Regions from separate parts of the Homo sapiens genome. Here all the other regions are linked to region 1. The links come from fine-mapping of genetic effects on gene expression. A gene starts in region 1. Each other region holds a variant in brackets. All regions are shown on one strand. Distances are from middle to middle. Region 1 holds the start of FAM163B (family with sequence similarity 163 member B). Region 2 holds the start of DBH (dopamine beta-hydroxylase). Region 3 holds the start of DBH-AS1 (DBH antisense RNA 1).

The links.
Region 2: its variant is fine-mapped to the expression of FAM163B in liver (GTEx, PIP above 0.99).
Region 3: its variant is fine-mapped to the expression of FAM163B in cerebellum (GTEx, PIP above 0.99). The same link has a PIP of 0.9 or more in cerebellar hemisphere.

What each region holds. Positions count from the first base shown.
Region 1 is chr9:133,603,909-133,613,600 of GRCh38, reverse strand. FAM163B (family with sequence similarity 163 member B) reads left to right here and starts at 4,212. Exons shown (of 3, transcript NM_001080515.3): 1 at 4,212-4,524.
Region 2 is chr9:133,630,107-133,639,798 of GRCh38, reverse strand. It overlaps DBH (dopamine beta-hydroxylase), which reads right to left and starts at 3,436. Exons shown (of 12, transcript NM_000787.4): 1 at 3,089-3,436. The coding sequence starts at 3,427. RefSeq lists an enhancer at 1,436-2,171. The variant A/G (reference allele first, on the strand shown) is at 4,406.
Region 3 is chr9:133,651,097-133,660,788 of GRCh38, reverse strand. DBH (dopamine beta-hydroxylase) reads right to left here. Exons shown (of 12, transcript NM_000787.4): 7 at 9,012-9,155; 8 at 8,505-8,543; 9 at 7,790-7,849; 10 at 4,139-4,266; 11 at 3,560-3,719; 12 at 1,460-2,473. The coding sequence ends at 2,342. It overlaps DBH-AS1 (DBH antisense RNA 1), which reads left to right and starts at 3,381. Exons shown (of 2, transcript NR_102735.1): 1 at 3,381-3,662; 2 at 4,252-6,202. It also overlaps a transcript of SARDH not described here. RefSeq lists an enhancer at 5,507-6,306. The variant A/G (reference allele first, on the strand shown) is at 5,249.

The DNA of each region.
Region 1 (9,692 bases):
ACTCTGTCCGCTGGCACACTCTGCTGCCCGACCCTCTCACCTTCTCTTGCACACTTTGGTACCTCGTCATTCTCCTGGTCCCATCTAAAAGACGTCCAATCTAACAGACCCAGGATGCGAGGCACACTCTGCCTATTCGGCATCACAGAGTAATCACAGTGACTTGCAGTTACCCATCTCTCAATAGTTTCTTTTTAAAAAGTTCATCTCTTCTCTAAATGGGCTTGATCTTGACCTGCACAGATCATCTGGAGTTGAGTGGACACAGGTTCAGTGAAAACGGATCAAAGGGGCTGTTGCTGGGCTCAGTCAATCAACTGCAGAACGTCTTATGGCTGCAGGCTAAGAAGAGGAAACAATTCAACGACCAAACAAAGGTTAATCTAGTAACTGCGGCAAGGCCCAGGTAATTTCCATAAATATGTGGAAACAGCAACCACTTCAATAGTTTGGCCTGGCACCAATATGAGGAGGAGCTTGGAAAACCGGACGTGGACCCCCTTTCAGTGCCCTGAGATCCATCGAGCAGCTGAATGGAGGTCGGTGCTGGGGGCCAGGGGGCACCCACACAGACCAGTGAGCAGCTGCCCCTTCTGGAATCTCACAGACTTCTAACACCGAGGGGTCCCCGGGTGCCAGCTGTGCTGCAAGTGGACAGCCAGCCTCTGCTCAGACATGTCTGGAGATGGCGAGCTCCTCCCTTCCAGAGGGTTCCCAGAAAGGGAATAGGAGAAGCTCTTGGCCATCATTCTCATTACTCTCCACATCCTGGCAGAAACTTTATTCCTCGAGCACTTTGTTCTTTCTGCCTCTGTAGAATGAGACTCAGCCATCAACAGCAGCTGCTCACATCCTTTGTTCCCAAGAACGTCGTTCCCTCCATTCGAGTGTGCAGGGGACTGTGCATGGGGGTGCAGGTGTGATTGGAATGTCAGGGTTTCCCCGCCACCGCTGGTTTTGTTTTTTCCTCTATATCCAGCCAATGAGCACCTCTTGTGCACATATAGATCCTCAGAGAGAAAGAAAGCCTGATGCCTCTTCTTCATGAGGCTGTAAGTCTTTGAGCAATGAGGCTATCCAACTCGACTCCAAGAAACGGATGCGCACAGAGGTCCTGCTTGTATAGTGTCAGGCTGATCTTACGCAAGCCCCATTTGCCCTAAGTGGAAAATGAACCTTTGTAAACTGCCACCCATGAACCAATGTGTTGGGAGGTGTTCAACCAACTTGGCCATCTGTTGAATTTGAGTTATATCCACGAAGCTCTGTTGTGGAATGATGCTGGTGGTGGGGACAGAGTAGCTGCCGTTGGCTGAGGTTGCCACGCGACTAAACAGCTTATTGTAGTGGATGGAGAACCAGTCCGGCGGCAGAATGTCACTCCTCCCACCCCCGGGCCTGTTTTTGGCCAACCTAAAAGAACTGCGTGTAACTAGGATCCTTTTTTTTGCACGCACCAGGAGAACTTGCTATTTAGGGAATCCTGATGATGAATTGTTTTTATAAAGTCAGACCAGAGACTCTTCCTTGTCTTTCTCTCCCCTCACCCATTTTTATTTTCTGAAATTGGTTTTTGCTTAAAATCAGGGCATGCTTTTGCACATAAATAATGAGTTTGGTGGTGACCATCTGGCATTGCGATCCAAATGAAATCTATTCAGTGTAGTCACCTCTTTGCTGGCTGTGTGACCTTGGCCAAGTCACTTCACCCCTTTGTTACCATCTGTAAAGCGAGGGCAATGCAGGCATCTACTGTACATATTGTGGGTAATATTCAGACCTCTTTCAAATAAAATGGGCTCCATTTTAAATAAGGTTTCGTCATCACGGGCATCAGGAACACATCTCTCTCCACAGCATGGGAAAGAAACCAGCATGTCAAGAGGCCAAGAGCTACAGAGTCTGAGCTGGTTCCACAGAGGTTTCCAGCTGCTCAGATCTATAGCTGCAGGATTCTGCAGAGTTTGAGTAAAAAGTCAGCATGGGGAGAAGTGGAAGGGCATTGAGCTGGTTGGTAAAGACAGGGCTTGGCAGTGATGTTGCTTTTAAAATTCTTGGCACACACTTGCAACTCTCAAATAAAAAACAAGTTGCTCAGTTGTCATAATGGAGTTTTTGACTAAAAGTGATGATTTAAAGGATTCCTGTGTCAACTCCTAGGACATCGATTGGCTGGCTGGTTTGTCTCTTCCTCCTGGCTCTCTCTCTTTCTGCCTTTCTCTCTCTCTCCTTATAAGGAATTTCTATCCGTGTTTACCATCCTTCTTTCTAGGTGGGGCTGGTTGGGAAGGATGTAGAAGTTCTAGAAGAAGGGGATTAGGAGCAATGGCTTGGGAATCAGGCCGATCCGCCTCAGGTCTGCTGCTGTTGAGCCTAAAGTTTTCACCTGCAAAGTCAGGGTAATGACAGTATCCATATCTCATCGGATCGCTGAGAAGACTAAATGAGGCAATGCTCGCACTGTGTTTAGCCTTGTGTCTAGCACGCATTAAGCACATAATGAGTGATGTTTATCATGAGACAAGTGCCTGGTGGGAGCAGGTACTACTCGCAGTTAATTAATGAATCAAACACAGCCCCTGGTCCCTTGGGAAATGAAGCAGGTGATGTTTAATTATCCTGCTTGGAAGAGAACAAGATACTCACAGGGGGCAGGGACCAGCTTTTCCCATTAGTTAAGAGGAAGGAGGACTAGCCTGGTTTGCTATAAGAAAACTCTCTATGGTCAAAGTGACCTGATCAGCCTGGAGAAACTCAGCAGGGGCCCTTGCCAGGGGCCCCAGCAGGGGAGGCAGCAGGCTGGACATTTGGAGCATGTCTGTATGGTGTGAACACTCACTCTCTTGTCCATGGGCAAGTTGCTCACCCATCTGTGCTCAGCCCATCTGTAAAAGGGAAATGGACTCCAAGCACTTTACTCTTCTGTTTGTCCTCAGTATTCTCATGTCTAGAATGAAGCAAGGTTATGGTTACTACCAGGATGGAGTTTTTTTATAGAGAACTTAAAGGTTGATCATAATGAAAGCACACATTTAAGGCCAGGCGTGGCAGCTCACACCTGTAATCCCAACACTTTGGGAGGCCGAGGCGGGCAGATCACTTGAGGTCAGGAGTTCGAGACCAGCCTGGCCAACATGACAAAACTCCGTCTCTACTAAAAATACAAAAAGAACAACCTGGGTGTCGTGACGCATGCCTGTAGTCCCAGCTACTCGGGAGGCTGAGGCAGGAGAATCACTTGAACCCAGGAAGTGGAGGTTGCAGTGAGCTGAGATCACGCCACTGCACTCCAGCCCGGGTGACAGAGTGATATGGCTCAAAAAAAAAAAAAAAAAAAAAAAAAAAGCACACATTTATATGGTGCTTTCCCACCAGGCACAGCTCTGAGTGCTGTACATGTTCTAACACAAAAGCCTTCCTAACATTCTTAACACCAGATTTCTCTCCGTTCAGGGTCCCTGCGACCGCAGGCTCAGCTCGAGGACCTGCAGAAACAGGGAAATGCCTCCTGGGGCACTCCTCTCAGGAGTAGGAGCCTTGGGTCAGAAAGGTCTCCCTCGTATCCAGCCCAAATCTGCCTTGCTTTAACGTCTAGCCATTGGTCTTAGCTCTGTGCTTTGGGGTCAGGGAGAAGGGATCTGCTCCCCTTCCCCGTGGATGTGGGAGAGATCCAAAGGCAGCCGCCATGCCCCAAACAGCCACTCACCAGGAGCAGCGTAAGCCTTGCTCCTCCTCTCAGTTGCTCCGGGGTTGCTAACTCAGAGAAGGGAAATAAATAGTAACAAAGGCGAGCATTTATTAAGTACTTATGGTGTGCCGGGCCTCGAAACATCATCGGATTTCATTCTCAGACCAACCCTAAAGGTGCTGGTGTTAACTCCCCATTTTAAAGATAAGAACCAGCCGCTCAACCAGGATAAGGGACTTGCCCTACTGCGGATAAGCAGCAGCTTCGGCCTGACTCCAGATCCCAACGTTGTGGAAGCCGGAACGCCCCGAGAACAGGCGGAGAGCGGAGGGAGCACCGCAGGGCGCCGGCCAGGGTGGGGGCACCCCCAGGCCTCCAGGAGGTCGCGCGTCCCGGGCGAGAGCGGACGAGCCGTCAGCACCAGGGACAGCTCCCCAGGCCGCTCCCGGCATCCCCCGACGACTGCGCGCGCGGGCCGGTGACGCGCGCTCCCCGCCAGGCTCGGGCGCGCGCCCTCCCCGCCAGCGCGCGCCCTGCGCTCGGGACCAGGCTGGAGCCGCGCGTGCAGCTCGCAGGGAGCCAGCCGGGGCGTCCGGAGTCGCGGCCGCAGCGCGGAGCTGGCAGGGGTGCCCGCCTGGGCACGCAGTCGCCTCCCCGGGGGCCTCCCGGGCTTCTCAGCGCCCGCCTCGCCCGCCCAGCCACACCAGGCGCCACCGCCGTGGCCTGGGCATGAGCGGCCGCCGCTAGCTGCGCCCTGCCCGGGTCGGACGCCCGCCCGCCCCGTCACGTGCGCCCAAGTCCTCGCGGCCGGGGCAGCGCGGTTCCCATGCTTCAAGGTAAGGGCCGAGCGGGCCGCGGGTCACGGGGTGTGGGGCAGAAGACGCAGGCTGGAAAGCTCCAGCTAGGTGCCCACTCGTCCAGAGTGCCCACTGCAGCCTGCCCCGGCTGCCTCGCACCAGGTCCCCTGACCCAGCTGGCGTCACCCATCCCCTGGCTTCCACCCTCAAAGCGCATCCCCGAGGAGGAGACTGAGACCCAGGTGGGCACGAGGGCCTAAGGGAGAGGTGGGGGACCCACTTTAGGAAGGGGGGCTTCATTTCCCTCGGAACAGTGGCCTGGGGGCAGGGGGCAGTGGGGAGGGAAAGTTTCCCAGAAGAGCCCTCTGGAAACCTGGCCGCCTTCTCTCCCTGCCAGGAGCTAAGACTTTTTCATTTGCTGAGCTTTGCCTTCTTCCAGAGTCGGTGCTGCATTTTCATCCCATCCCATTCACCCAACACCCACGAGAAAGGGGCATTGGCCCCATTTCACAGATGCAGAAACTGAGTCTCCGAGAGGTTTGGTCTCTTGCCCACGATCACAGAGTGGGGAAGTGGTGGAGATGGCCTCAAACACGCCGGCCTCTGTCACCACCACCTCACACCTTTGTCTGTTAGGAATCTCTGCTTCATTGACAGGTGGGGGGTTGCCTAACTGACACTAGGTTTCCTCAGCCAGAAAAGAAAAGACTCTACACACCAAAAACCCAAGAGATATTCAACATGGGTCCTCAGGGCTCCACTGTCTCACCCCACTCGTGTCCTGTCCTCCCGCAGCCACGGACTGCCTGGGCACAAGTGGTCCTGCCAGTGTGTGTCCCGTAGCAACCCCGATGGCTCTGAGACAAGAAACTCAAGGGTCAAGTTCATGGAACCTTCTGCAGGGTAAGGGGAGTATCCTTGAGGCCTGAGCCCCAGCATTCGTCCTAGCACCTTCCCCAGTAAGCAGGAGCTCAGGAGAGCCAGCGGGCCACCCTGCCAGCCTTCTCCCTTGCATTTCCCTCAGCCCCTGCCAACTCACGCTCTTCAGGGCTTCTGGGGAGAGCAGTAATTACCAACCCCCAAAAAGTTCAGGGTTGCTGGGAAAGCACCTTTGCCCATCTTCCCACCTTCTCCCTCTTATAGAATTGAGAGTGAAGTGGAGGTGACCAGGGCTCTACCCACCTGAGCAGGTGAGAACCAGCACTTCCTGGGCTGGGCAAGGGCTGGTTTTAACTCTTGGTGCACTGACTGCAAGCTTCCTAAACAGCTTAGGTGCTGGCAGCTTGTGAAAAAATCTCACCCTAAGGCTCGGGGGCCCAGGAAATGTGGGGTTTTGTTCATTCGGTCTTGCACTTGCTGGCAGTTTGTTGAGCATCTGCACGATGCTATGAAAAGACCCACAGGGCAGTCTTTGTATCCTGGATCCAGCTGGGTTTTGGTTTCCCTATCAGCTGAGTTTCCAATGGGGCCGGCTTGTCTAGACTCAGCCGGAAAGCTTGGAAATGGCTCCCGAAGGATCTGGGGGTCTGGGAAGGATGCACAGGCTCTCCCAGCCTCAGTGCCCCACTTGCATGGGGAGGGAGTGGGAGCTCCAGGGTGCATTGCTGGACTCTCAGGACGTGCTGACACCACTCAGAATCCTGGCACACAGAGGTGTTGCAGCTTCTCCACCCTCGCCTCTCCAGCAGGTAGGGCAAGGAGCCCCACAGAGCTCCTCCTACCCTTGAGGCTGGAGTCCCCAACACACGTCTGTCATGCCAGTACCATCAGCAAACATGAGCAAGGGCACCTGGGGAAAGGTGGGCACAGATGGAGAAGTCGGGACTCGAGTTCTGTCCACCTTTTTGGGTGACCTTGGGCAAGTCACTTTCCTCTCTAGACCTCAGTCTCCCATGTACAAAATTGTGGGGTGGATCATTTCATGTCCCCCCTCTGAGCCATTACAGCTCTGTTCATCTAAGCCCCGGATGGAGTAGGAAAGCTGGGAGGAGTGCAGTTCCTCCCTTTTTGCCATGGTATTGAGGGAGTGCAGAGCAGTTTTGAAATCTTCGGACTGACCTGAGTCCAAGCCCCCAGTCCGTGCCAACCCTACTCCCTACTCACATGATCACCCCCGTTTTGTATATTTAGGGGCTGGCTCTATATTCCTGACTTTTCTGGTGCTGGTTCTGGGTGAGGCTTCACAGCATGGAGACCCACTCCTGCAGTGAGACCTCTGGCTCCTGCCACGTGGGCCTGCCTCTGCAGCCTCATGGCAGCGGGCTCCAGCGAGGAATAATTACAGCACTCGGGAGGGGAGAGATGTATTACATCTCAGTCAATTACCTCTGACTCTAAACTCTCGGGGCAGGAGGGGAGGCAGAGCAGCAGCCGAGCCCTTGTTCTGTCCTCCACTCCGCTCCTGGCCCTACCGCCACTTCCCTCTTCAGAGTAGCAAGTCCTGATCTGTGTGTTGGTAAAATGGCAATTTGTGTGGCAGAGAGAGTGGTTTCCAGGCCAGACCACGGGTGCATCATTCCGCATCCCCATCTGCAAAAATGAGGGTGCTCCTGCCTTCCCTGCTGGCACATGGGACACCGGGGCAACCGTGAGCCTGGCCAAAAGGCTTTTGGATGCCAAGAGCATGTGGTCCTGGGGACCACCCTACAGAGGCCAGGGTGGGGCTGGGGGGCTTCTCTGCCAGCTGCTGCCACACTTGGCACTGGTACTTCTTGCAGTGTCTCAGTCTTTCTGGATCTGCTCCAGAGGGGATTTGATGAGTTCCGAGGCCTCAGTGTTTGCCAGCTCCCTCCCTCCGTTGCTGAATCCTCCCGCAGGCCTTGGCCCAATCCCCGCTTGCTGGGGGTTGCTGGAGAGGGGAAGGAATCCTGTTGCCCCTGGGGTGAAGTGGGCTGGTGGAGGTAGAGTTGAAAGCCCAGCTTTGCTGCTTTCTGGCTGTGGAACCCTGGGCCTGAAGGTCTTGGGCTGGAAAATGGAGACTGTGCCTCCTCCTTCCCTCGGGCCTCATCAGTGAAGGAGGAGGCTGGAGAGTCAGGTGGGGTCCGGTTCCGCCAGGCTTGTAAGCCCTGCTCAGTGGTTGGGCTTTCCGCCGCAGTCCACAGGAACCAGGCTCTGGGAGCCCGGAGGGACATGGTTCGCTCTGCCCTTTAGGGACCCTCTCTGGCTGCACCATGGGGAATGACTTGGAGAGGGGGCCCTGCAGGCAGGAAGCTGGGGAGGAAGGGAAATGATGGAGGCCTGGACCAGGGTGGTAAGAAGAGGGCAAGTGACAAGCATGTTGAGGGCTGGATGTTTGTGTTGGGGTGATGGGAGACGGCCTGAGACTGCCCAAATGTCACTCCTATACCACTCCCTTAAGTCAGGCTCAGGCAGCGCCGGACGCTCGGGATGGGCCGCACGTAGGCAGTGAGGTTGCGGCCCCGGGGCCCTGGGGGAGGACTGTTGTTTCAGCAGCAGCTCAGTGTCAGAGCCATCATCCCACTGGGCTGGATGTTACCGCCTGTGCTCTGGGCGCTCTCAGCCCTCGGGGAGCCGTCCGTGCCTGTGGGAGTGGGTCCCTGCCGGACCGAGCTAGTCACCTCTGCCCTTGAGCTCAGTTTTCCCAGGTGGCAGAGGTGGAAGAAGGCTGCACCAGCTAGGGAGCTCCGGTGGAGGCTGGGCAGGGACTGGGACAGAGACCCCAAAACAAACCAGGCTCCCAGGGCTGCCACCTCGTCCACCACATTCCCTGGCTACTGAGGGTGGCAGTGTGGCTGAGTGGACAAGAGCACAGCTTCTGTAGCTCAGCAGAGCCGTGTTTCCATCCAAGCTATGCGTCCCTCGTGAGGTTACTCAGCCTCTCTGGGCCCCAGGTTCTTCATTCATAAAATGGCAATCATTACATCCGCCTCTGATGTGCCAGCTTACCTCCCAGCCAGCAGACTGGGAGAAGAGCCCTAGCGAAAACCTCTTCCAGGCCAGCTCCACCCCACGCAGCCCCGACCCGTGCTCACTTCCTGGCTCTGCCGTAAGGTGGCCTCGGGGCCCACAGGCCTCGGTCTGCACCTGGCAAGCAGGCAAACCCCACATCGTGGGGCAGCCTTGGCTCCTGACCTCAGTGTTCACACACAGGCAGGATCATCGCCACCTCCATCTCCGTTCCTCACGAGGAGGTCCACAGTTTCTGTGTGCAACAGGCTGGCCCTGTCTGGGAGCTGGGCCTGCTGGCAGGTCCCGGGTCTCTGGAGAACCGTCCTCTCTCTTTTGAAATCATCCTAATTTGCATTTGCTGTATCTGGCTGCACTACCTTATAGACATCAATCTGAAATCGTGCTACTCCAGATGGGGTTCGGGGACCAGCAGCAGCAGCAGCAGCATCCCTAGGAACCCGTGAGAAATGCAGGTTCCCAGGCCCCCAGACCTGTTGTAACCGGCCCCCAGGTGATTCCTGTGTTCCGTGGAGTTTGAGACTCACCGCCCACCACGGCAGAAAAGAGGTTCTATTTGCATAAAGCAAGGGTGACTGTCTCCTTCATGCTCCTTATATATTTAACTTCATATATTAAAGGGTGTTTGAATAAAAGAAATACATGCTTGCAGTAAGAGAAAAACCAAGCTATTCAGCTTTTGTTGGTTGGTTGGTTGGCTGGTTTTTTACAAAGTAAAAGCCCCCGGTTTCCTGGGTGTGGCCTGCCCCCCAGTGCTCGGCTGTGTCAGTGACGTGTGTGTCAGCCACACTGGGCACCACCGAGAGACCAGTCTGTGTGTGTTGTTCCCTGTCCTTTTGACTTAACAGGTCTTGGTTGTGTCTGCATGTCGACACCCTAGTCTGTCATTGATTTACCTGGACCCATATCAGTAAACAGTCATGTAGGCCATCCACAGGTTTTATTTTTTGTGTGTGTTCATTTTATATACTTGTTCACTCAAGTAATCACTCCAGGGAAGGATTTCATAGTTGGATGAGGGATGTGCAGTGTGAATAGAAATAAATAGGCCAGGCGCAGTGGCCCATGCCTATAATCCCAGCACTTTGGGAGGCTAAGGCAGGCGGATTACTTGAGGTCAGGAGTTTGAGACCAGCCTGGCCAACATGGTGAAACCCCATCTCTAATAAAAATACAAAAAAGAGAGCCGGGCGTGGTGGCATGCGCCTGTAATCCCAGCTACTCGGGAGGCTGAGGCATGAGAATTGCTTGAACCTGGAAGGCGGAGGTTACAGTGAGCC
Region 2 (9,692 bases), 26 kb before region 1:
CCAATCCACAGGGGAAGAGGGCATTCCCCGGCAGAGCTCCGCATTCATTGCCAGCTGATCTGGGGATGCTGGGCCTCAGTCCCTGTGGATCTGAGGGTTCTGCCTGGGGCTGTGGCTTCACTCACACCTTCTATCTCCATTTCTGCCTGGAGACAGTGGAGATGAGCCCCGACAGTGGAGTTGGTTCCTCCTCTGCAGCCAGGAACCAGGGCTGTCACTTGCCAGCAGGTCACAGGTTCTGTTAGCCATGGGCATTCCCGGGCCTGGCGGGCGGGACACTGAGCTTCTTAAGAAGATGCCTGAGGCTCCCAAGGCCTCCTCAAGACTGGGAACAATGCCTCAGACCAATGCTGCCCACATTCATGCAGGCAGGAGAGTTGCGGAGCCTCAGAAAGGGGAGAGTTGGGAACAGGGTGGGACATGAACAGGAAAGGAGAGAGAAACCAGGGTGCCACATCTAAGATGGTGATTGATAGCAGGTGCCCACCCTGCACTGGCACAACCCTGAGAACAAGCACTGCTTTATTACTTTATAAATACATGTAATTTTGGATTTTTTTTTTTTTTTTTTTGAGATAGGGTCTCGCTATGTTGCCTAGGCTGGTCCTGAACTCCTGGCCTCAAGCGGTCCTCCTGCCTTGCCCTCCCAAAGTGCTGGAATTACAGGCATGAGCCACCACACCCAGCCTGAAGCACCACTTTAAACCCTGCAGCCTAGGCATTGTTCCCCTCACCTTAGTCCCAGCCCTGCTTGGAGAAGGTAAACTGAGGCCCAGGGAGGCATTGGACCTGCTGCATTCTCCGAGGATGCTTCCTGGGATCTGGATCAGTGACCTCTGCCCTCCCCGTCTCCGGCCGCTCCCCTTGCACTGGGCCCTAAGGGGCAGGGACACGGTGGCCCGAGGCCAGGTCACATGGAAGACCACCAGGGAGACCCACTGAGAGACAGCGAGGAGCCTTCCCCAACAAGCAGGCTGCCCTTCGTACTCAAGAAGGGCCCTTCTTAGATTCCATATTTGTCTATTTGGCATCTATTAATTGATTGAAGGCTCAAACAGATGGTCAGAGTTGTTTACACCTGTCCTGCCCTCCAACATTCACACGTGTGTGAGAATCATATTCCTAACATTCCGACCCACACCAAGCCCATATCCCTAGCTACCTCCTCCACCTGACTCTCACACCCCAGGCCAATATTGCCCCAACCCTAAAACACCCTAGGGCCAGGAACCAGGCAACTAGAGACCACCCCAGCCACCCAGAGCCCACCAGAATTGTCCAAACGAAGCTGCTTCCCTGCCCTGCCTGGCCTTTCCCATGGAAACCCCAAGAAAGCCTCGGGCCCTTGGCCTTAAGGACTTTGGGTTGTGTTTCTTTTTAATCTTACATTCAGGGTAAAACATCTTTTCTTCATTTCCTTGAGAAAAAAGAAATCTGCAAAAGATACTGCAAAACTTTCCCTAGAGAAAAAAGCCACACAATGCAACCCCGCTGGGGACACCGCTGGTTTGCCGAGAGACTCATTTTAAACAGAGGCAGAAAGTTCGCCTGTGATATTTCAGCTGGAAATCAAGAAGATATTAGTTGAACATATTGCTTAGGGAGGAATAATAAGGCTGACATTTGCTTTCGTAGGAATTTGTTGTGCAAATTAACCTTGCCAGTGCACGGAAAGGCAAAGTCACCTGGCTTCCTCTGGCTTCCCTAGCAGCCGGGAAATGCAGGCAGGGGGGACGCTGCCCCAGAGAGGAGCAAATGCTCCTGCACTCAGGGTGCCTCATGGCAGAGGCTTGCGAAGAACCCCAAACTGTCAGCGATGGGGTTCAGCTGCTCCTCCAGACGGCTGACGGCTCAGAATCAGGGCTGTCCCAGGTCTTTCTTGGCTGGAACCTGAGCCACAGAGTGTCTTTGTGCACAGGAATCTGTGCAGCCCTATGGGTCAGAGCAGGGCCCTTCCCAGGCAGCTCCACTCACCCTACCTGGGTGGCCCTAAGCCTCACTAGCGACACAGGCAAGTGCCTCCTGGCCGAGTCTTGGGAATTGGAGGGGGCAAGCTCAGCTCCAGAAACAGCAGCCACCATCTGCCCTCATGAATTCACAACACCCAAAAAGGCAGAGAGGGACTCTCCGCCCCACCAGCCCATGGTGAGACCAAGATGCAGAGCTGGAGCCGGCCGCTCCGCACAGACACAGCTCCCCCGCTCCAGCTCGGCACTCCCAGATAAAGCAGGCACCTCCTGACTTCAGAAATAAAACTTTTTTGTCACTCCTTTGTGTGTTTCTGTGGAGAGAGTTGGGTTTCATCCACAAAGAAGCCCTGGTGGCCAGTCCCATGTGGAAAGGAAGGCTGGAGCAGGACCCATTGTAGGCGGTGGGCTCGCCCACTTCGGGGACCCCCTGCAGCTTGTGGAAGGGCCTAAAGTCCCCTCCAGTTTGAAGGGAAACTTTTCCCCTTTCTCCACCCTGTGAAACAAGAGTGGAGGTAAATTTGGACGGAAAGGAGTCAAGAGCCCATCCTAACAGTTTTGGCTGAGCCCTGTGGGGCTTGTTCAACACCTATGGGTAGGGGCAGGGTGTCTGCACCTGCTCAGTTGGTCCACGGGTACAAGCACAGTAGGTCAGGCTGGATCCCATGGGTGTGCAGGCCTCATGCTGTGCCCAGCCACGCGCCACCACCTGGCCCACATCAGTGGGCATGTGTGCTCTGGGGACGTGGTACTAGGCATTGTTTACAGGGCCGAGGGTCGTGGGGTCTGTGCTCATGCGCGTGTGGGGTGTGGAGCGGCACGAGTGTGTGTGGTGTGTGCGTCCTCTGTGTATAGTTCCATTCCTTGGGATTACTGGGTCCCATGATTTGGGGCGGGCAGTCAAGGACCATGGAAAGCATGTCTTTCCTATTTTGTCCTCAAACTGAGATCCCCATGATGCCCAAGCTCGGGGTGCAGACTTGGCTCAGAGCAGAGTCAACTCAAACACTGACAGGTGACAGAAGAACTTTCTGGGTTAAGGAGGGTGAGTGCAGAAAGACGGCCAGATGGGGTGCCGGGTCAGGAAGGGTTTGGAGAGCTGGCAGGGAGGAGAGACTCACCGCAAAATAGGCAGTGTCCCCATCGGTCCAGAGCACCACGAGATCTGCGTTCTCAAGCTCGCCACGGTCGGACATCCCAAACAGGACGCCAGCCTTGAGCCTCCGCACCAGGAGCTGGAAATGGATGGCCTCCTGGGTGTAGCTGACATTCCATGAGAGCTCCAGGGACCCCTCCGGGTCCAGGGGGATGTGATAGGGGAGGGGGCTCTCACGGGGAGCCGAGCCCTGCAGTGCGGCCACCAGGATGACCAGGAAGATGGCCACTGCTGTGCTGTACATGAAGGCTGCCTCCCGCATGCTGGGGCCGGGCAGGCTGGCCCAGCGACTGAGGGCGGGCATGGCTGGGGTGAGCTCTCTGGTCCCACCTGGCCATTTATGCCCTGGTCCTGAATGGGGTGGGTCCAGGCAGCACGGGTAATCACATTTGTCTAGCGGGGAATCCAATTTTCCCTCCCACAAGCTTGCGCCCCAGGCCAAGCACTCAGCCTGCTGCCCTCCTCTAATTGGCACTAATGACACATGGACGTCATCAGTGGGAGTTGAAGTAGACAGGCGGATGCTGTCCCTTCTGAGATGGCTCTGAAGAGCTGTCCCAAAAGCAGATGCACCCTGCAGCCAAGAGGCCTTTCAGACACCCTCTGGCCAGGCACCAGCTGACTGCCTCACAGGCTGTCTGGCCCAGTCCCCAGTGGGATGGGGTCTGCGTCGCCTCTACCCACGGATGAGCAGACTGAGGTCCGAGGAGCTGCTCCAGGCTGACCAGTGAAGGATAGGCCCGTAGCCACTGCAGGCCTGGCCTAGCGAGCAGAGCCGTTTGTACAATACTAGCAGGTGGGCCCATTTCAAACCAAAAATAAGACAATCTCCAAATAGTCCCTGTGTTTAGACACTCTCTCCACGGCCTGCTCTTCCCACTTTTGTCTCCTCTCAATTTTTCCACAGCCTCCAGCTGGTACCACTGCTGCTCCAGAAGGCGCGAGAGCATCATAGGGAGTGGGGGACATGGGCGTGGGGTGCATTGCTGGGGACAGACGGAGCTGGAGCTGCACAGGGGATAGGCAGGCTGCAGGGTGCACTGCTGGGGGTGACAGCCTTTAAGGAAAAGAGGGTGAGTGACAGGCCTGCTCCCCTGTCTCTGAAGCTCCCAAACCCACAGCTTCCTCTTGCCCAGAGCAGATCTGGCCTGAATTTGAAGCCTCTCAGGGCAGCTGGCCGCAGCCCTGCTTCTCCCACACCTGCCACAGGACCTTTGCCATCATCCACCCGTGGGCCCGAGGGTCAGTCTCACCACGGCACCTCTCCCTCCTGTCCTCTCCC[A/G]CAAGTAGACTGAGGGCAGCTGCCTTCAGGACATTCTGCTTGATCCCTCCAGCTCCACCCCCCAGGCTGGGTTGACAGATCTCTCCAGCTGGACTAGAAGCTGTCCCTCCTCCCCAGCCTCCTCCCTCCCTTCCTTCCTTTTCCCTCCTGTTTCTCGTCTCTCTGGAGAAACCCAGAATCTAGCCTTAGGGGCACATTCATGTCATAGGCTGACAGCAACATTTAGGTCCTTAAATACCCATGACAGCAGGTCTGGAGGCTGCTTCAGCTCTGAGCTCTACGCTGTAGAAAGGAATGACTGTGTCTTTGCACGAACGTGAAATTTGGAGAAAGTGCCAGCCTTCCCCTGGCCCTCGCAGGCAGTGCTCTCTGCCCCACAGTGGCCAGGCCATCCTGCAAAGCCAAGCTCAGGCCATGAGCCCCTCCCCACTGATTGCACCCAGAGGGGCACCGTTCGCCCCCACCCACAGCCCAGGCAGGTGAGGTCCAAGTGCATAATCACCTGTGCAATAGAGTGTGGCATTGGTGTGAAATTGTCTCCCAGGCCAGGGGAAAGACACTCTTGGGAGTTCTCTGGTGAGCCTTGGGAAGGGTCTCAGCCTCCGAAGGCCTGGCTTTCCCATCAGGACATGCCACCTCCGTCGCCTGAGAGCACCTCACCTTCATGCCTCAGATTAGTTCCAAAACCTCCTCACCTGTGCCTTGTAAGCAGGTGTCTGCTGCATCCCGGACATTCACTCTCGGGACTGGGGAGCGGCCACAGCGAGCCGGTGATACGAAGAGCCTCCGGGGTGGGCAGGCACTGGTGTTCCCAGCACGGGATAACAAAAGCCAGCAGAGGCAGAGGTGAGGGTCACGGGCTCCACAGCACACCCAGCTCAGGGGTGAGCCCTCCCAGCAGCCTGGTGGCCACCCAGGTGGCTCCAGCTAGACAACAGGCTAAACGAGCACCAGCTGGGGCCCGCGTTGTGGGAAGGGGGGCACCTCTCTCCCCTCTGGGGTATTGAGGCCCCAGGCACCCCTCCTGCTCCTCCGGGGTCAGAGCTCTGGGGTCATATCCTGCTCCGCCCTCCTGAATGCGCAGCTGGCGTCCTCAGAGAAGCGCTTTCCAACCCAGCGCCTCCTCCCCATCTACAGACACAGGAAGTTGGATGACAAGGACAATTGATCCCTCCAGCTTCCTTCAACCCAGCGGTTCTGTGGAGCGAGAGGCAGTGAAGAGCCCCTGATGCTACCAGCCCTTGGACGGCTCAACACACCTCCAGGCCTCGCTCCTCTCCCGGATACGCCAAAGACCAACAGCTGCTGGGAGCTCTAAGGAGGGACGGCAGGTGCGGTCTCGTGCTCAGCAGTGTTATGCACACATGTTTATTTTTAACAGGAATCAAAGACATTTTCTTTATCCAACTCAAAACTGGCTTTCCTCTAGCATTTGACAGAAATGATTCAGCTGATTCCAAAATACTGATAACTAAGTCCTAGGGAGGGACAGGAGACACAAGTCAGGCCGCACCAGGGCTTCCCCTGCCCTGCCTCCATCCTGGCCAGCCTTGGGTGGCTGGGTGTGCGATCATCCCTGTCTCAGACACAGGAGAGTCAGCCTCGGAGAGGCGAGACAATGCGCCTGAGCTCACAGGGTGGGCCAGTGCCTGGGGCAAGCACCCCAAAGAGGGTGCCCTGAGCTGGAGGGGGCTGCACACCTTGTCAGCCAAGGTCAGAAAAATTCCACTGGAGTCAAGAGGAAGGGACGCTCAAATGAAAAATGCAACCGCAGAGAAAATCTGCGGAGACTGGGGCCGGGCGGGAGGGAGCGAATCCAATCGGATGGCCCCGTGGCTGCGCCCTTCCTTGCATTAATGGATTTTAAAAGGGAGCAATCCGACCCCAGGGTAAGGAAGCAACAGTCAGCTCTCCTCCTGCCCTCACCCTCCTCAGAGGTGACACCTGCTTGCCAGGTGCTCTCTTGGCCACATGCCTCCCTGTGGTGCCCCGCGGGGGGCTTTCCTCCCTGCTCCCACCCCTGCTGCCTCTGCTCCAGTGTCTGGGTGCACGTTGCCCTCCAGAGGTGGCGGTGGGGGTGGGGATGGGAATGGGGGTGGGAGTGGGGTTGGGGGTGGGGTAGGCCGGGGAGGTGCAGGGTGTCACGGCCACGGTGTCAGGAAATAAGCCCCATTCCTGCTGCTCAGCGCCTGGCTTCCCTCCAAGGCGCATCGACGGCTGACCTTGTTTAGAACCAATTTCAGCTTTTTAATAAGCCCTTTGCTTTCCTGAATCTCTCTGATGCCATCAGCCTTTGCAGGCTGTAATTCCCCATCGCCTCTGCCACATGAGGCTGGCTTCTGCTGACGTCCTAACCTCAGGCAGTGACAACCCCAAGTGGAGCGACGGTGGTGCAGACTGGAGCTGGGTGAGTGAACAGGCCAGGCCACTCCCCAGTGACAACGGGGCCTGGCCACAGGACAGCACTGTCCCTCGCCTGTGGCTCAGGCTCTTAGGGACCTCCTCTTGGCAGGAAAAATTCAACTATCAGTCTGATGGCAGTGCCTAGACCTGACTTGTGATGGGATGGATTGGGAGCTGCTGGGAGACGGTGACTCTGTCCATCACAGAGCCCACTCCAGGGTGGCACAGTCCCCTTGGGGAACTTGGGGCAGCTGGCCTATGTCCCTCCTCGTCCTGAGCATAGGGGCTGCGGTATGAAAGTTAAGAGGCACATTCTGGGCTGGGCACAGTGACTCATACCTCTATAATCCCAGGACTTTAGGAGGCAAAGACGGGAGGATTGCTTGAACCCAGGAGTTCGAGACCAGCCTGGGGAACATAGCATGACCCAGTCTCTACCAAAATAAAAATAAAAACAAATTAGCCAGGCATAGTGGCACAAGACTGTAGTCCCAGCTACTCGGGAGGCTGAGGCGGGAGGATCGCTTGAGCCCAGGAGTTTGAGGCTGCAATGAGCCCTGACTACACCACTGCACTCCAGCCTGAATGACAGCGAACAACCCTGTCTCAAAACAAACAAACAAAAAGCATATCCTGCCTGAGGAGGCAGCGGTGGCACCATGCCTCTGCCTCTGCTCATAAGCGTAGGTGGCCGTGAGAGTTTGAATGCTTGGGATATCCCATGGCCTGAGGTGTCCAGGGCCTGGGGCACTGAGTAGGGTGGCTACAGTGGGATCAGCATGAGGACTGGGCCCAGGGCAGGTCACAGAGGTGCCCAGAGCACCACTGAAAGCTTTCCTCAGCTACTGGATTAGAGGCACCCTCTGGCCCTGAAGCTCTGTGCCAAAAGCAAGGGGCCACTGATCCCAGAAGGGGTCGGTATCGTGAGCCCCAGTGACACTCCCCTGGAAGCTCCCAGGGAAGCAGAACCCAGGAGTCTGTGGCTGGCTCCAGGGCTGGGGCTGCCAGGCCTGCCAGGCCACTCCTGTGTGACCCCAAGCAGCCCCACTGTGAGCAAGTCCTCCACTGTCACTGGCAGGCGGCTGGCCTGGGCAGGACACAGCCTCCCCCGCCTCCATCTCTCCTCCATACACAGGGGTCAGCGAGATGGGGAGGTGGACTCTCACACCTGCGTGGCCTGCACCCCCAGCTCTGGGCTCATGCTCACATACTCAGTTTTACACACACACACACACACACACACCCCTCCAATAATTTGGCCTCAATCTTGGGGCTGAGGCCTGCTGGGCCCTGAGGAATCTTACAGGGAAACCCTTTCTGGGTCCTGCTTCTCCTTTTCTCCATAAGGATGCGTGACTGCTCCTCTCTCTTGAGCAGCTCATGGGGGGAGGTGCATGTGCCTGATTTTTGCATTTTCAGCTTTTCTGAAGGGACCACACTGCCAGGATGGTGGTGGGTCCTGAGGCAGTAGCTCCAGACCACACCCAAGCCACAGCGTAACTGTGGGCACCAGATGGAAAGAGAGGCCCTGAAACCTGCCGGCCATGTGACCCACCCGGACAGTCCCCACAGCCCTGAGCCTTCTTTCCTCATCTGTGAAATGGCCATCTTGCTCAGGACCGGCACTGGCGCTGACTTCTGGCTACAGAGGCTGGGCCCTGCGTGGCCTGCACCAGCACTCAGGGCTGCTGGTCTTGCCCCCCGCTGGCTCCTGCCAGCCATGACCCTCTTCCTGAGGCTGTAGTTCATCTGTCAGTAAGCTTGGTCACCTCAGAGATCCACCAGGTTGACCTACCATTGACCCAGAATGGGGCCGATGCAGTGAGGGCTAGCGAGACAGCCCCGGGCTGCCCTCACCCGCATCCATCTCGGGGGCTGCTGCACCCACTGACATCACAGGGTCCAACAGGCAGGGCTCTGGCCCAGGAGGGTCTCGGAGAACATGAGAATCCGCCTCCCTCCCTGGAATCTCTCTGAGCTTCTGGCGTGTGGTGTGACAGACAGAGGGATGTCCCCCAATGGCCACGTCCAGATCCCTGCAAGTCGGGTAGGCTACCTGGGGAAGGGACATTCAGTGTGATTAGATTAAGGACCCGGAGGTGGGAGGTGGTCTTGGATTGGCTGGGTGGACCCCATGTCATCACAAAGGTCCTACGAGAGAGAGAAGGAGATGCATTGATGGGGTCCAAGGAGAGGAGGCTGCTTCCAAGACGGAGCAGGGGCCATGAGCCAAGGGATGTGGAGGCCTCTGGTAGCTGGAAAAGGTGGGAACAGATTCCCCTCCCAGAGCCCCCAAAAGGAGCCAGCTCTGCAGACACCTTGATTTTAGAGCTTCTGACCTCCAGAACTGTAAAAAAAAAAAATCGTGTTGTTTTAAGCCTCAGAGTTTTTGGTCATTTGTTACAGTGGCCACAGGAAATACAAGCGCCCTCCTCTCCTAGTGTCTGCTGGCACCGTCACACTCTGGTGGGACCCCCAAGTGCAGTCGGAGACTGTGTTCCCTTCTTTTTGTCCTGTTATGGTTTTGGTTCTCCCAAAAGCAGACGCTGAGGCAAGGGTCTGGATGTGAGCAGGCTGTGTGGAAGGAGAGCTCAGAGTGTGCGGAGACGGGTGGGCAGGGGAGTGGGAACACTCACGAACCGTACTTTCATAATCAGTTTCCTCCATGGGCAGTAGGGACTCAGTTCCAAGGGGACCCTGGAGAGACTGTGGAATGCACCCCAAAACTGTCACATCAAGGGTGAAGAAGCCGGGGCCCTCACCTTCCCACACCCATCCCTCACTGGCAGAAGGACGCTCCTGGGGTATCAGAGCCCAGCATGGGGGCTGCCGGCTGGTGGGCCAAGTCCACTCACACAGCCAAGCCCACCCCAGGGTGGGAGGG
Region 3 (9,692 bases), 47 kb before region 1:
CGCCCCACTTCTCTCAACACTGATGGGCATGAGCATTCCTCACCCCAGGGCTCTGAGCACCTCACAGATGGGGGGTTGTGCCACCCTAGCAGTCCCTGCCCCCTGGGAGGCTGGGGAACCCTCTCCTCGGTGGGCAGATAGGGAGACCCAAGCCTAGGGAAGGAAAGTAACTAACTCAGGGTCACACAGCAGGGGCAGGAATAGCAACCTGGGCTGCTGGACTCACACCCCAATCATTCGGAAGGTGGGCGAGCCCAGAGTCCCTTTGGCTTGGGGCATGTAGGTCATTTTCAGGTAACAAAGCACTTCCCCTAAGCCTCTAAATAAGGAACTTATTTTAGATAAAATCCCCCACAAGGGTCCTGGGGAAATTCCTGTTTCCTAAGTAAGCAGAGGTTGAGCATTCAGACACTGGAGTCAGACCTGGGGACACTTCGAGCTCCCCGGCTTACTCTGGGTGACCTTGGCACCTAACTTTAGGTCTCTGAGCCTCAGTTTCCTCCTCCATCAATGGAAACAGAAACTACATGGCTTCACGAGATTGCCACGGCTGTGCATAGCCTCAGTGTGGGGCAAGTGGCAACTCTCAGCAACCACGGGGTTACGCTTATCTGGGTGTAGGAGGTGCGGGTACTGCTGGAGCGGGGTAGGGGGGACACGGCTGCTGTCTCTGCAAGAGGAAGAGGATAACCAGCCTGAGAGCAAGAGTGTGAGTGGGGGGTGAGGTGGGGGTGGGGTTGTCGCTGTGGCAGGTTCCAGAGCTGGCTAGGATTCCCAATCACTGCCGCTCTTGGGCCCCAGGTGAGGTACTTATCTGGGAGTCTCAGTTTCCCTGCCCGAGATCGGCAGGCTACAAGTGCCCCCCAGGTGTTTGGGCAGGACCCTGGGACCCTTCTCTGGGCTGGCAATTGGGTGTGATCGCGGGAAGAGGCTTCTTGGGCCTGCTCCGTGTCTACTGTCACCTAGGCTGTAAAGATGACAGAGGGCCGGAGTGGCTCTCCAGGCTGGGGCCTGGCATTTCACAGCGCTAGCGCCGTGACTTATGGACCACAAGAAGCTGTGATTTATACAACGTGAGGCAGAGCTCCTGGGCTCGTGACTTCCCTTCTGTGATGAAGTGAAGTGCCTTGCAGAAGCAGCAGCCGCTTAGCTGATGCGAGGGGACTCCGAGGCCCATCCATCTCCCTCTCTCCCCATGAGGCTGGGCAGCGTTTTGCTGAAGTGGCTGAACACAAGTGCATCTGTTACTGTCTCCAGAAACCATCAAAGAGCTGAACTTGTCCCTGAGAGGCAGCTCAGAGGGCAGGAAGGGGAGACCCACCCAGGCCAGCTGAGGCAGCTTCAGGACGCTCAGGGGGAAGCACTTGGTACCACGCCTGGCACAGGGAGGAGGCTCAGGAGCAAGCTTCTCTCTCCTGGAGCGACGGCCCGGAGTGCAAACATACCCACCTCCAGTGGGTGCCAGCCCAAGTGTGAGCTTTATTGGCTCATTAGCCCGCACGGCATCAGCCTGGTTTTACAGATGAGAAAAGTGAGGGTCAGGAATGTGAAATGGCCCGCCCAAGGCACACTCCCTAAGTGGCAGAACCACGCGGAAAGCACAGCCCTGACTCCACCCCGGTCTGTTCAGCGCTGGCCCCACCGGCAGAGAAGCAAGCTGGTGCTAATAATTCCACCCCACGTGGAACCGGCGCCCAGAAGCCCCGCTGGATCTTTGCCGCCTCGTCTTTTGGTGATAGTTGTTGTCAGGGCTTCCCTTTAGGTGGGCGAAAATATCTGTTTACTCAGGAATGGAGCAATTTCCCAGGCGAGTCTCTAACTAGCTAAATGCCTGGTCCTGCCTCCGTCGCAGGGAAGCCGCCCACTGTGAAACACGAGCCACTCAGCAGGGAAATGTTTAAGCGGCACCCGCACCCGCTGCACACCGGGAGCAGCGGGGCGGGGGCGGGGGCGTTCCCGGTGATTCCACACCCCGGCCCAGCATGGTGCCTGTCCCAGAAGCCAGGCCACACCCAGTGAGGCGGAACAGGGCTGGCGGAGGGCTGGACCCTGGACCACTGTGCAGGCTGTCCCTGCACTGAGTCAGCCGGGTTTAAATGGACGAGGTCGTGGTCCACTCGGTCCAGGGTAGGTCAACAGGGCACCCACACCCTCTCAGCCATGCAGGGGACCCTGGGGGAAGAAGGCTGGATTGGACCGTGGTCTCAGGCAGGGGCGTGGTCTGGCCCCTTCATCCTGGGCGTGCAGGGCTGTTCCATGGGGATCGTCGCAGAGTAGAGTGCACAGTGCCGGTGTGAGCCCACAGGGACAGCATGGAGGAGGGGGAGGAGTAGGTCCCCCCTCAGCCTTTGCCCCCACCAATGCTGACAACGGTGGGGCCAGCAGGGCTTCGGCCCTGGCTGGTGGGGCACTGTGGGGTGGGCTCTTCCAGTGTGGAGATGACCTTGGGCAGGGGCTGCAGGTTCCATTCACCCTGCAAGGAAGGGGGCAGGAGGTAAACTGAGGCTGGAGGGGCAAGATGGGTGGCTGCTTCCCCAGCCACTTCCCAGCCACCTCTTGGATTCTTGCCCTCAAACTCAGCTTGTCTCAAACTGAACTCACTCTGCTCCCCCAAGTTGCTTTTTGGGGGTCCTCACCTCAGTAAATGCCCCCTCCCCTGGCTTCCCATTCACCTAGTCAGGAACCTGGGAGTCATCCAGGCCTCTCCCCGCCTCTGTCCCCACCCAATTTAATCATTCACCCTAGTGTAGCAACCAGAGCCCCTGGCTGCAGGCTCTGATATTTTTTAGCTATCTCTTCCCCTCAAGGCTACACCAAATGCCAAGTTTTCAACCCCATCAGACGTCCACCCCACACTATTCTCAGCAAGCCAGTATTAGCCCTTCCTTCCCTTGGTGCTGAGGATGTTTGACTTAGCAGTTAATCTGGCTCCCAAATGCTTCTGGGAAGGATCTTCCTGGATCTCCAGGCTGCGGCACCTTACGCGACTAACTCTGCATAGGCCCTGGCCTCCTGACCACAGCCCAGTGGGCCCAGGATAAATTAGATGCCTTCGAATACCAGTGGGTCTCAGATAAGGAGGAAAAAACCAGCTCGCAGCTTCAGACTGGTTCGTTTCTTACCTTCCCCTCCCCTGGTGCTTTATTTTTAGGCAGGTTAGTGCGCCCTGCTCACACCACCTGCATTTGGCATTCGGTACAGTGTGGAGGTGTCACCAGAGAGGGTGCCTGCCCTCCCTTCCTTGCCTCGTTATTGGTTCTCTCTCTCTCCCTCTCTCTCTCTCTCTCTCTCCTCTCTCTCTCCTCTCTCCCTCTCCCTCTCTCCCTCTCCCTCTCTCCTCTCTCTCCTCTCTCTCCTCTCTCTCCTCTCTCTCCTCTCTCCTCTCTCTCTGCTGGCTGGCTGGCTGTCTAGGCCTATGTGTCACCACCTGGCACTTGCTCTCATTGTCTTGTGCGAGTGCTTTTGCCAGCAGTTTGGAGTGCAGACCCATCACCCCTCACTGGGGCCCCCCATGAGGCCTGCCTGACTGCATGCCCCACCCGGGCCCATGGCAGCGCACCTGGAAGCGGACGGCTGAGGACTTGTTGCAGTGCATGGAGATGGGCGCGAAGCTGTACAGGGCCTTCAGTACGTCGCGGTTGAAGGAGTTCCAGGGAACAGAGGTGAACTGCTGAGACACGGACGCCTGAGGGCAGGTGCAGACATCCTCGTTGTTGAACCTGGTGGGGACAAGGAACAGCCAGGCTGGGGAGCAGCTGACGGGCAGGGAGCCCAGTGGGCACCAGCAACACCTCCCTGCAACTCGAGTCCTGTCCCTGGGGCAACCGTCCTGCCACCTCCTCCCCAGCCCCGCTGCCTCCGCCAGGCCACCCCAGATGCTGCCTTCACCGGCAACGGCCTCACCTCTCCTGTCACCTTGGCGGGTGGGTAATGGCTGCTGCAGGCTGGGTTGAGGAGGCTCTGAAGCCAAATCCAGACTCAGCAGGAAACGAGTGAGGGGAGGGGTGAGTGATGCCGCCACAGGTCTCTGCTCCTAGAACTTAGCCTGGACTCCTCCAATCTGCCCAGCCGCCTAACAGGCCCGAGGTTCTGTGTCGGGGTTCCCTGGGGGCAGGGAGCTTGTGCAGGGAGCCCTCACCTGTTGATGAGGTGGAAGTACTTCTGCAGGAAGCCGGCGTCCACAGCGCTCTTGCAGAGCTCCAGCTGCGTCTGGGGGTAGTAGTGCACGTAGTTGACACACATCTCCTCCAGGATCCCGAAGCCCCCCTGCAAGTTGGAGGAGACCCGTCAGCCCCGGGCCATGCCACGCAGACGCTGCCATCCAGCAGCTTTCGCCGCACCCACGTGTACACTGCGTCCACTCGTCTGTTCACTGCACCGTGCCAGGCATGCTCTGGGGAACCGAGTCCCTGCCCTCAAGGAATTGCCACCATTGGCAGGAGAGACAGGCAGTGAGTGAGTGAGTCAACCAGGAAATTCGTATCAGGTACTGATGATGCTGTGAGGAAAAATGAAACGGGACAAGCGGATGGGGTGTTATTGTGCCCATTTTATGGGTACAGAAACTGAGTCTCAGAGCAGGCAAGGGGATGCCCCGTGGTGGCCACAGCATCGGTGGCACAGCCTGAGTGCACCCAGCGTCCCGGCCATTGTCTGGAAGCTGTCCCCATGACCTCCAGCGAGAGCCTGGAGCCAAGGACTGCAAGGGAGGCCCTTTCCACTGCAGCCCCGCACCGTCCACCAGTCATTTCTCCAACGTGGCTCTGAGGGGAGCAGGGACTCTATAAGACAGGACCGTGACTAGAGGCCGCGACAACCTCCAGCCTCTCACGGCAACCCTACGGCCTGCCATCGCATGGGAGGGGCAGGGCAGGCACCCTCTGAGTCCCCACTGCCAGCTTTAAGCCCCTCGCTGGGTTGCTGCTCTTGGAGCTGGTGACCGTGGAGCCTCAGCCATAGGAGGAAGAACAGCAGCAGCTTGGAGGAGCTGGGGCTGGAGAGAGCAAAGCTCCCCCGGCAGCAGCTCAGATCCCAGCAGGTCAGGGGCCGGGACATGACGCCCTGGCCACCCTTGCCCCTCCAGGCTCCCCGCTGTTTGTGAAGCTGCTGTGGGCCTGGGGATTTCATCTGGCTGGTGGGGAAGAAAGGCAATCTTTACTCTATGGCAGAACAAAGGGACTGGGCAAAGCTTGGCGTGGCACTTACACCAGCTGCCGCCCCCTCCTCCCGTGCAGACAAAGAGCATGGG[A/G]CAGTTCTGCCCAGAGACGAAACCTGGCACCTGTTGGCCAGGACGCGTTTTTGCCAGCATTGTTCTCTGGGCCGGATTCCTCCTTTCCCAGCTTTTCTCATCCATCCCGCCCCCGTCAGATCGGGACGATTGCCCTCCTGTGTGAGTTCCTGTCCCTCCCCACCCTCTGCCACCACAGACATCAAAAGGGAACTGAGTCCGACCCTGTGTAGAATCTGTTCTCCTCTTTCACCTGGGGAAGGAAATCGAATTTCAAAGGCCACTGTGTCTTGGATCAGCAGGCGAGGGCTTGTCAGAGTGTGAGAAGCTCAGGTCCACCTGGGGAGCTGCCCTCCCCTTTGATCCCACCTGGTGCTGTGATGTGGCCACTGCCAAGAGGACGACATGGGCCAGGGAAGCCACAGAACTGCCCACGGGGACGCTGGCACCGAGGGCCTCAACCTGCAGAACGGCCATCTGAGATGTCCGCGGTGCTCACCAGGCCTGGCAGCCCCGAACGCCCTGGGACGTGGCGTCAGTTCCGCCGCCGTGAAGCCAGATTGGGCAGGGAATATGCAGTCTCCTCGCTGGATGCCCGGCAAGACCCTCCCATCCCTGGCCCCGGGGCCGCGCCTGCAGAATGGGGCTGATGGTGGGGACTTGCCTGGGGTGCTCCACCTGCAGAGCCCTCTGTTTGCGAGCCCACTCAGTCACTGCACAGGTGCTTAGCCGAGAGGCGGCACAGTCGGGGTTGGCACCTGCACCCATACCAGCCCTGCCTCCTGTTCGCTGTGTGGCCTGAGTGGCTGGACCTCACTGTATCTCCTGGTGGGATTGCTCAGAGGTCTCAGCAAGGCTTGGTGTGGTTAGGATGAGTTATTAGAGCAGTGCTGAGCTGTGGCAAGCACCCGACATCAGCCACTGCTGTGATATACTGAGCACCTCCTCTAGAGAGAATAAAGGACTGACAAAGCTGTCCTGTCTCCACCCTGAGTTTGTGATCAGGAACCTAGGACACTTGTCACCTGAAATCCAAGGGAGACAGGAAGGGTGGGGTAACAGCTGTGAGGCACAAGACCCTGGGTCAAATCCCAGCTCAGCCATCTATCAGCTGTGTGACTTTGGTCAAGTGCCTGCCCTCTCTGAGCCTTTATGTCTCACCTGTGAAAATACAAACACTGGCTGGGTGCTATGGCTCATGCCTGTAATCCCAGCATGAGGGATTACATGAGGAGTTTGAGACCAGCCTGGCCAACATGGTGAAAATCCATCTCTACTAAAAATACAAAAATTAGCCAGGCGTGGTGGTGGGTGCCTGTAGTCCCAGCTATTCAGGAGGCTGAGGCAGGAGAATCGGTTGAACTCGGGAGGTGGAGGTTGCAGCAAGCTGAGAACACACAGCCTGGGTGACAGAGCGAGACTCCGTCTCAAAAAAAAATAAAATATAAAATAAAATAAAATAAACCACTGGCAGTCTGGGCTCAGTAAACATCAGGTGAATCCACATTGGATTAAAACACAAAGAATAGGGCTGTGACATGGACCTGAGTTCCTGGCGCTGAGGGATGTCAGGGTAGCTGTAACCCAGGTCTGCTCCACTTGAGCCACACAATTCACAGGATAATTATTGGAGACCACCATGGTTACCGAAGCAGCTGGCACGGATCCACTGGCAAGGTGGCCCATTTGCCAGGACAGCCCTGGCTTGTGCCTGGGACCCAGGTAATTGTGAACAGCATCCCCTTTGGCTCCCGGAAGCAGCCCCGCTGCGTGATGCATCACGTGGCTGCCCGTGTCCTGGTGCTGCCTGCATACCCAGCCTTGAAAATAGATCTCTCCAGTGCAGATTCTCCTTGAACTGTCTGCAGTCCAGCCAAAATGCATCCTCAGCTGACGCTCATCCTGCCTGACCCCCACCCATGTCTCCACCCTCTCCTCCTCTCCTTTCCATCCTGAGAATGTTCTTGGTCCTCTGGGCCTTCCCGCACGCAGCCCCTGCACAGAGCCTTCCTTCACCTCCTCCCCTCTCCCCTGGGCTCCATGTGACAGCCACATTTCTGACAAGGCCCTCCCAGGTCCCCGCACCTCTGCCTCCTCAACCTGGTTTTTAAAGTTTTGTTTTGTAATTTTGCTTGTTGTTAGCAGCAGGTGCTCCAGGCCTGTCTCCCTGGTGCACCTTGAGCTCCACGGGGCAAAGGTCAACCTCTTGTCCTACAGCTTCTCCCCACACCAGCCCCGGGTGCTGAGAAGCTTCTTGGTGTGAGTGCTTCTCAACCTTGAGCAGGGGTCAACATCCGCTGGGAGCTTGTTAAAACATGGATTGCCCGATGCCACCGCCTGTGTCTCTGACTCAGTGGGCCTGGGGTGGCACCCAGGAGGTTGCATTCATCCCAAGCTCCCTGGTGATGCTGCCACTGTGGTTCAGGGAGCTGAGAACGACTGGCTTATTGAGGGGACGAGCCCATGCCCTAAGTGAGGAGTCAAGACCTGTCATCCTTCCTCAGATGGCTCAGGCTGAACACTCGCCCTGGGCAGGTGCAGGGGGAAGCGGGGGTGACTTACCACTGTGGCCAGCTCCCGGTCTTCTGTGTTGTACGTGCAGGAGGTGATGAGCACATCTCCCTGAGGAAAAGCCAATGTGACCATCAGCACCTGCCACCTGGCGTTGGCAGGTGCTGGAGGCCTCGCCCCCATAGGACCACGCCACTGTGCATGCCACGGCACCTCTGGGGTACAGTCCCTGTCGTCCACTACAAGGAGCCCAGCAGATTCATGTGCGAAGGTCACAGGCTGAGTGTTCCCGAGCAAGTTATAAACCATCAGCTCCTGTGACCCAGTGGGTCACAACAGGGCCAGGGCCCAGGCCAGTGGGGGTGCAGCTGGTGGGCCATGACACATCTCAAAGGACTTGGGCAAGTCCCCACCGAGGCCTGGGCTTGGCCCTCTGTGGGATCAGGGCTCCACTGCCTGCCTTAGTGCCCTCATCTCCCCCAAACACTCTCGGGTTTGTGGTCGGCCCATCAGACTGAGGACACGCGTCCCCTGGGAGTGTCCTGTCTGCTCCACTCTTTCCAACGTCTCTCCATGAACTCCTGAGTGAGTCTCCCCATGAGGTAGCCCAGCCCAGAGCCACCCACAGGCACCCTCCCCCTGCCCTGGATGGCTCTCCCTCCCCCTATCACTTTCTGTGTCCCTCTCCTTCTGGTGGCACCCCCAGCCCTCTCAGCCACCCCAGCTGGTGGCAGTGAGTGGGACAGCCTTCCCGCTGGGCACTCACCGGATGGACCGACACGACCTTCTTCAACATGCGGATCTCCTGGGGCAGGCAGAGCCGAGGGGTGGGGGAGAGGAGACCTCAGAGAGCTGCAGACCAGACCCCCGGCCACTGTGTCCTCCCTCAGGCCTCCCTGACCTCTGGGGGTGTCCATTTTGCCCCAGCCTCTACAGTGGAAGCCAGAGCCCGCTAAGTGTGGCTTCTGGCCAGGGAGGGCATTAGATTCAAACCAGAAGGTGGTTATCCAAGACCAAGATTGATGTTCCCAGAGGGCCGCCTGGGTCTCCCGAATCCCACCACCATCTGCCATGTGCCAGAGGCCTCCCTACGATCAGACACCAGACACCCAAGTGGGGAGCACAGGCCACATGGGTGGGGGGCGGGTGGGGCTGGCCCAGGAAAAAGAAGCCAGCCTGGAGCCATCCCTATGGTGTCAGGAAACAGTAGACCCAGGAGGTCGTGTGGTGGCAGGGTGTGGGGGCGGGGCAGGGGTGGGGTGCAGGTTCCTACCTGGAAGTGAGGGCTGTAGTGATTGTCCTGGTTCACGATCTCCCACTCCCGGCCGTCCCGGACCAGCACTGTGACCACCTTTCTCCCAGTCAGGTGTGTGTGGAGCTGAGAGGCGAAGATGTGGATCCCGGAGGGAGGCAGTGCCTGTGGGGTCGGGGGGCTGCAGTGTCAGGGCCTGACCCCCGAGGGGACCCTCCCGTCCATGGCCAGGACCCGGTAGGGAGCAGCCACCCTGGGCAGTTTGCTTCCCTGGAACACTTGCATTTTCTAGGTCTTTCTCCCCGGCCAGGTTAGAGCCACCATCAGAAACCTCACGGGGAAGAGCGAGGGGGCCGCAACAGCCCCCAGCTCCCAAAGAAGCAGCCCCTAGTCCCACTCAGGAGCGACTTTCTTTCCGAGTCCTTCATCCTCTCCTGAGCCCCTGAAGCCTGACAGGTTCATCTTCACTCAGTCAACAGGCCTTTAAGGCGAGCCTCCCGTGGACAGGGTGTGGCAAAGCCACCAAGCTGAGCAGCGCGTGGCCTCTGTGCTGAAGAGCTTGCTGTCCAGGGAAAAGCAAGTGGCAGAAGGTGGTACTTGGCAGGTCCCCTACGTGGTGGGCCGAGCAGGACCTTCAGCTGCCCTGCGTTGTGGCTTCCTTTCAGCTTCAAAGCAGCCAAGGCTGCATTCTCCCTGTGCTCA